Homo sapiens: one gene and its partner. The protein of the gene in region 1 purifies or fractionates together with the protein of each later gene. This does not show direct contact. Each region holds a gene or a part of one and is shown on either strand. Other genes may lie near its edges.

Region 1 (3,817 bases):
CGACAGAGTGAGACTCTGTCTCAAAATAATGATAATAATAATAAATTAAATTAAAAGAAGGAAACCCAAAAGAAGGAGTCCTAGAATGGCCCAACCTCTGTGGCCTCATCCCCACCCTCCCGCTGTTTCTTGTCCCTCCTCAGGGCCCTGGCACCTGCTCTTCCTTCTGCCTGGAACTCACTTTCTATCTCAGCTCTCAGGGTCTCAGTGCAGAGAGAGACTTCCCAGTTCTCCCCCATCACATGACCTCTGCCCTAGCCATGGTGTCTGTGTCTAAAATGGGGACAGACAGAGTGAGAAGGGGCTTGAGTCAGGTCTTCCAGGCTTAAGAGACTCAGGCCTAAGCCCCAGCCCTGCTGCTGCTCTCGTGGGACCCTGGGCATCAGGGGCATTTCCGGAGTCATCTTGGCCCTGGGACCTCCGGACCAAGGCCCCCGTCCACCCCCCAGGGACCCATCAGGGTGGGGGCAACATATCCCAGCCGTGGGAACAGGCCCGATTCCGGCTGGGGATTAAAATTAGCCCTGGAGGTTAAATTTAGCAAGTCAAGCCGGAGCTGAGGGTCTGGGACTGACAGCTTGGGCTCTACATAGTTGTGGGGGCTCAGAGACCCAGCCCAGAGAGGGCAGAGGGTGTGCCTGGGGTCACACAGCATGCCATATCTGCCAGCCGAGGTATCTAACACTTCTGGGCCCTGGGATAATGGAGGGCCTTGCCCAGACCGCTTGGGCAGGGGTCTGGGAAGCCCTGAGAACACTCCCAGAGAACAATCTGGATTTCTTTCTTTCTGTTTTTGAGACGGAGTCTCGCTCTGTTGCCCAGCCTGTCAAAATCTCGGGATCTCGGCTCACTGCAACCTCCGCCTCCCAGGTTCAAGGGATTCTCCTGCCTCAGCATCCTGAGTAGCTGGGTCTACAGGTGCCCACCACTATGCCTGGCTAATTTTTGTATTTTTAGTAGAGACAGGGTTTTGCCATGTTGGCCAGGCTGGTCTCGAACGCCTGACCTCGTGATCCACCCACCTCAGCCTCCCAAAATACTGGGATTACAGGCATGAGCTACCACGCCAAGCCAGATTTCTTTTTCTTTTTCTTTTTCTTTTTCTTTTTTTTTTTTGAGACAGAGTCTTGCTCTATCACCCAGGCTGGAGTGCAGTGACACACCTGCCTCAGCCTCCCAAGTGGCTGGGACTACAGGTGTGCGCCACGACAGCTGGTTAATTTTTGCATTTTTAATAGAGATGGGGTGGGTAGGATGCGGTGGTAATCCCAACACTTTGGGAGGCCAAGATGGGTGGATCATGAGGTCGGGAGTTTGAGACCAGCCTGACCAACATGGTGAAACCTCGTCTCTACTAAAAATACAAAAATTAGCTGGGCATAGTGGAGGGCACCTGTAATCTCAGCTACTTGGGAGGCTGAGGCAGGAGAATCACTTGAACCTGGGAGGCGGAGGTTTTAGTGAGCCGAGATCGCGCCATTGCCCTCCAGCCTGGGCAACAAGAGTGAAAACTCGTCTCAAAAAAAAAAAAAAAAAAATAGAGATGGGGTTTTAGCATGTTGGCCAGGCTGGTCTCGAACTCCTGATCTCAAGTGATCTGCCTGCCTCGGCCTCCCAAAGTGCTGGGATTACAGGCGTGAGCCACCGTGACCGGCCTGATCTGGATTTCTTGATAACTTGTTGCCAAGCCTGGTGGTGGGTGCTCAGCATTTCCTACCAGCCCATTCACAGAAGAGCAAACTGAGGCCTGGGGAAAGGGTCTTCTGTGCTGAGGGCTGCCCTGAGGGTCAGAGGGAAGGCCAGGCCTGAGCGTAGGTCCGCGTGACCCTGGAGAGGCCCCTTGCCTGAAGCCTCAGTCACCTGTGACATGGTAGAGGCTGGGAGGTGGAGTGTGGTCACACAGTTGGCGGAGCGGGGACGTCCCCTGTGGTGTCAGGGGACGTCTGTACAGAGGGCGGCGGCTGCAGGACAGGCCACATGATTCGATTGTTCCCAGGAACCTCGAGTGGGGGTCTCTGGGGAAGGCCTGGACCCCAGCATAGTCCAGCAGTCTCCTCCTTCTGGGACCCCTACCAGGGCGATCTCACATCTCCTTGAGTGGGGTACAGGATTTCTTCCAAGTCACCAAGTGGATGCCAGGCCCACACCCTGGCCCAAGGACTCTGAGCTGGAGGCCTTTCCAGAGTGTGCCTGCATCCTCCTGCTAGAGCAGGAGGCGTTTCTATTATTCTGTTTTCTTTTTCCTTTAAAGACTGGGTCTCTGTTGCCCACGCTGGAGTGCAGTGGCAAGATCATAGTTCACTGCAGCCTCAACCTCCCCAGCTCAAGTGATCATCCTACTTCAGCCACCGGAGTACCTGGGACTATAGACGTGTGCCACCATGCCTGGCTAATTTTTGCATTTTTTGTAGAGCCGGGGTTTCAACATGTTGCCCAGGCTGGCCTCAAACTCCCAGGCTCAAGTGATCCTCCTGCCTTGGCCTCCCAAAGTGCTAGGGATCACAGGCATGAGCCACCATGCCCCATTTGGTCTAAACATGTTCATTGAGCCTCTACTGCATCCTAAGGCTGGCCGGGGGCGGGGTCTGCGACAGTGACCCAGCCTGCCTTGATTTTCCCCATCATCTTCCTCTCAGTGGCTGGCAGGGGCAGACAGAGGAGAGGTGTGAGGCTGGGGTACCCCTCCCCACTCTCCACCCACTCACTCTGTCCTCTCCCTCTTCTCCTCCTAGACAAAGATCATTCCACTCAGCCTGGGACGATGGGGAGGAAAAAAATCCAGATCTCCCGCATCCTGGACCAAAGGAATCGGCAGGTGAGTTCACTGGGTGGAACAGTGGCTGGGAAAGACATTCCTAGCAGGGGGCATGGCCTAGGCAAGGGACTGACCTGACCAATTGAACTGCAGGGGAATGAGGAGGCATGAGGAGTCCTGATGCCATGTCAGCCTTTCTTTTTTTTTTTTTTTTTTTTGAGATGAAGTCTCACTCTGTTGCCCAGCCTGGAGTGCAATGGTGCAATCTCAGCTTACTGCAACCTCTGCCTCCCGGGTTCAAACGATTCTTCCTCAGCCTCCTGAGTAGCTGGGATTACGGGTGCGCACCACCAAGCCCAGCTAATTTTGCAGTTTTAGTAGAGACGGGGTTTCACCATGTGGGCCAGGCTAGTCTCGAACTCCTGACCTCGTGATCTGCCCGCCTCGGCCTCCCAAAGTGCTGGGATTACAGGCGTGAGCCACCGCGCCTGGTCTGTCAGTGTTTCTTGTTTCCCCTCCCTCCCTCCTTCCCTCCTTCCTTCCTTCCTTCCTTCCTTCCCTCCCTCCCTCCTTCCCTCCCTCCCTCCTTCCCTCCCTCCTTCCCTCCTTCCTTCCATCCCTCCTTCCATCCTTCCTTTTTTTTTTTTTTTTTTTTTTTGAGATGGAGTTCACTTTGTTGCCCAGGCTGGAGTGCAGTGGAGCGATCTCGGCTCACTGCAAGCTCCGCCTCCTGGGTTCAAGTGATTCTCCTGCCTCAGCTTTCCGAACAGCTGGGATTACAGGCGCCCACCACCACGCCTGGCTAGGCTAATTTTTGTAGTTTTAGTAGAGTCAGGGGTCTCACCATGTTGCCCAGGCTAGCCTCGAACTCCTGACCTCAATCAATCCTCCTGCCTGGGCCTCCCAAAGTGCTGGGACCTCAGGCTGAGCCACCGCACCTGGCCTGCTCATTTTCATGATCATTATTCATTTATTCTCCCTGATGACTGGAACCCCAGCCATAGGGGAGATGGAGCTTGACACAGCCACACCTAACTCAGAGGGCCAGAACAGAGGGAGGCC
Region 2 (3,817 bases), on another chromosome or scaffold:
AGTAGAGACAGGGTTTCACCATATTGACCAGGCTAGTCTCAAACTCCTGACCTCAAGTGGTTCACCCACCTTGGCTTCCCAAAGTGCTGGGATTACATGCATGTGCCACCATGCCCAGTCAGTTATTTCTATTTAAGAGAAAAGGTCTAGGCTGGGCGCAGTGGGTCACACCTGTAATCCCAGCACTTTGGGAGGTCAAAGCAGGCAGATCACTTGAGGTCAGGAATTCAAGACCAGCCTGGCCAACATAGGGAAACCCCATCTCTACTAAGCATACAAAAATTAGCCGGGGGAGATGGTGCGCACCTGTAATCCCAGATATTTGGGAGGCTGAGGCAAGAGAATCTCTTGAACCTAATAGGCAGAAGTTGCAGTGAGCAGAGCACGCCACTGCACTCCAGCCTGTGTGACGACGGAGCAAGGCTTTGTCTCAAAATAAATAAATAAATAAATAAATAAAATAAAACACCAGGTGCGGTGGCTCACGCCTGTAATCCCAGCACTTTGGGAGGCCAAGGCAGGCGGATCACAAGGTCAGGAGATTGAGACCATCCTGGCTAACACGGTGAAACCCCGTCTCTACTAAAAAAAAAAAAAAAAGAAAGAAAGAAAGAAAAAAGAAAGGTCTAAAAGGAAACATGGCAAATAAAAAGTTATAAAAATGTTCAGATTGTAGTTTATTATTTTTATCTTTAAAAAACAAAAGCAATTATACCAGTGTTATGTGGAAAATAAAAACAAACGAACAAAAGCATTAATTCTTATGTTTGTGCAGCAAATAAAAAGCAAGAGAATTATTACACTTACTACACGAAGGTCTTCGATACGTTTTTCAAGAAGTACAGGTAGACCCTCTGGGAGTGTAGGTACCACTTTGGGCATAACCTGAGAAGTGTAGGTTGGCTGGGTGGTGGTTCCATTTTCACCCCCCGACTCAGATAGGGGGCTACCATCAGAAGCAGCATCCAGTAATCTGTCGAAGTCAAAATCATCTAGCATCTCTAGGGCATTTTCAGCTTCCTGAAACAGCTCATGTTCATTTGTGCTAACAAAAATGGGAAGGTCTGGATCACCGCTGCTCAGATTTAAGTCCGGGACGTCATTCCCCAGTGCTGCAGCAGCACATGGGGGTTTATTCAGAGAAGGGGTTGACAAGGTCACTGGGACTTTGGGGTTAGACTCCTTCTTTAATGCATCCTTCTCTTTCTGGAATTTTCTAATCATGGCAGCTAGAGAAAGAGAATCTTTATAACGTTTCTTCTTTTTTTCAGACTTGTGTGAATTTAGAGCCACAACTCTGTGAAGACAAAAATGATCAGTTAGGCTATGTGTGATTTTAAACGTTAAAGTGTCACATAAATAAGCAGGCACAGAATTAAAATAATAATTTGACAGGTGACAGAGCAGTTTTCTTAATTTCTTATTAACTTATACTATTACAATAGCACCTTCTTCAGTATAATCTGGAATGTCACCCACGAAAGGCAAATAGGTAAATGGCCATTACAGTGAAGAAAATGGGGAAACAGCTCAGTTTAGCTATTACTTCCTCCTAGAAATCTTTTCTAAATCCTATGGCTTAAATGCTTCTATGTGCACTACAGAACCTAAAAGGTTATTAGCATCTTAAAGGCAGCCCCGTGTTTCAGTCACTGTTATACAACCCAAACCCTGTATCAGTGCCTGGTATACAGCAGGGTACTTAATAAATATTAGCTGAATAAATGAATAAGTTATAAAGTTGAAAAACAATACACTCAATAAAAGGGATTACTTATAGCCTACATTCCCAAAGAAGTCTACTTGTAAATAATGAAGATTTAAGACAACCATTAGTAATATACACATTTTTCCTCCTAATTTCTTAATGACTGTAATCCCAAGTTTTAGGAGGGGAGAAATACGCCCGACATCAATCTTATGGATATTGATAACCCAAAATTCAGATGCACCTCCACTGCTAAGTAGAGTAAGAAAATTCAGCCTCTCACAAGCGTCTTTCCCTTAGCTCTGTGAAAAAAGCCACAGAGAAGTCAAGGCAATTGGTAATGTTTGACTGCATTATACAAATATTTTATTCTTCTGATGTAAGGCTTCTGAGAAATTCTATTTGTTTTTTAGCAGCAATATCATTAATAATAGCTATATACTGGCTGTGTGCAGTGGCTCATGCCTGTAATCTCAGCACTTTCGGAGGCTGAGGCTGGTGAATCACTTGAGCCCAGGAGTTCGAGACCAGCCTAGATAACATGGCGAAACACCATCTGTACAAAAATATAAAAATTAGCCAGGCATAGTGGTACATGCCTATAGTCCCAGCTACTCAGGTAGCTGAGGCAGGAGGATCCCTTGATCCCAGGAGGTTGAGGCTGCAGTGAGCCATGATTGTGCCAGTGCACTCCAGCCTGGGTGACATAGCAAGACCCTATCTAAAAGAGAAAAAAAAAAAAGAATAGCTATGTAAAATCAATGAAAATTTTGGCTGGGTGCAGTGGCTCACATCTGTAATCCGAGCACTTTGGGAGGCTGAGGGAGGCAGAATACCTGAGGTCAGGAGTTTGAGACCAGCCTGGCCAACATGGTGAAACCCTCATGTTTCACTACTAAAATATTCTCTACTAAAAATACAAAAATTAGCCGGGTGTGATGACATACACCTGTAATCCCAGCTACTTGGGAGGCTGAGGCATAACAATCACTTGAACCCAGGAGATGGGAGTTGCAGTGAGCCTAGATTGTGGGACTGCACTTCAGCCTGGGTGATACAGTGAGACTCTGTCTCAAATCAATCAAATCAAAATTTTTAATATTAAAACAACCATAAATTGTTTACATATAGGCTACTGCCAATCCTCATTCCCCAGGCATCTAAACTTAGTTTTAGTACCAAAAGATTAGAACAGTTTTTTCAATGTTTATAATATCTTTTCAAACTGGTTCTTGTTGGTAAAAGTAGTAATGAGCATTTCACCTAAAACACTAGGAGTCTCTAAGATGACAAAGCCTTCTACTTAAGAACAAATACTACAATACTATTAAACATAAGTCACTAATATGTCAATAACGTACTAAATTAGACTCAGCTAGGTTGAATTAGTTAATGGTAAGTATATCTTTCTAAAGGGAGAGACAGTCAGACTGTGACGCCAGTTCCCTTCTTAGGTTTAATTTAACGTACCCCAGTTGTTTGGGAACTTTTTTCCTTGGCTTCTTCTCCTTTTCCCCTTCCTCTTTCCGCTTCCGCTTCTTCATCTCAATATCATCTTCTTTTATTTTGGGGACCTGCAAAATGATAAAAGAATGATCATTTATGTAAGTAACAATGCTTTACTCTTTGATGTTAGCAATCCAGCATCAGCAGTGGTTTTTCTCAAATGTCAGTGTGCATTACAATCGTTTGTTATAACTGCAGATCCTTGGGGTTCAAGAGCACTCTCACCTCCGGTTTCGATTCAGTTATCTGAGTTAGAACCTTATAATTTGCATTTTAAACAAGCATTCTGGTGATTCTGGTGTAAGTAAGTCTTTGGGCCACACTTCAAGAAACACTTATCCAAGGACACTATATCTTTCCCAAAGACAATGTATACAAATTCTATAGATTTTGTTAAAAATGACATCTTAGGAAAGGTAACAGCTATTAATATTAACCTATCCGAGAAATATAACCTTCTCCCAGAAACAGTAAATTATTAGCCCACATTTGTAGAGAGAAGTTTTTATAAGAAAATATAATTCTATGATGTAAATACCAATTTTCCAATATCTACATAATTTAATTTTAAAGCATGTAATTATATATTCATGACACAATGGT

The links.
Region 2: the proteins of MEF2B (region 1) and UBN2 purify together in Homo sapiens (affinity purification with mass spectrometry, with the first as the bait; one large-scale study listed by BioGRID). This does not show direct contact.

What each region holds. Positions count from the first base shown.
Region 1 is NC_000019.10:19,149,680-19,153,496, reverse strand, and holds part of MEF2B (myocyte-specific enhancer factor 2B), read left to right. Parts: intron 1-2,732; 5' UTR 2,733-2,761; coding exon 2,762-2,815; intron 2,816-3,817. Other genes in the region: BORCS8-MEF2B (myocyte-specific enhancer factor 2B), read left to right, coding at 2,762-2,815. UniProt on the Homo sapiens protein: Transcriptional activator which binds specifically to the MEF2 element, 5'-YTA[AT](4)TAR-3', found in numerous muscle-specific genes. Activates transcription via this element. May be involved in muscle-specific and/or growth factor-related transcription.
Region 2 is NC_000007.14:139,258,732-139,262,548, reverse strand, and holds part of UBN2 (ubinuclein-2), read right to left. Parts: intron 3,283-3,817; coding exon 3,179-3,282; intron 1,298-3,178; coding exon 808-1,297; intron 1-807.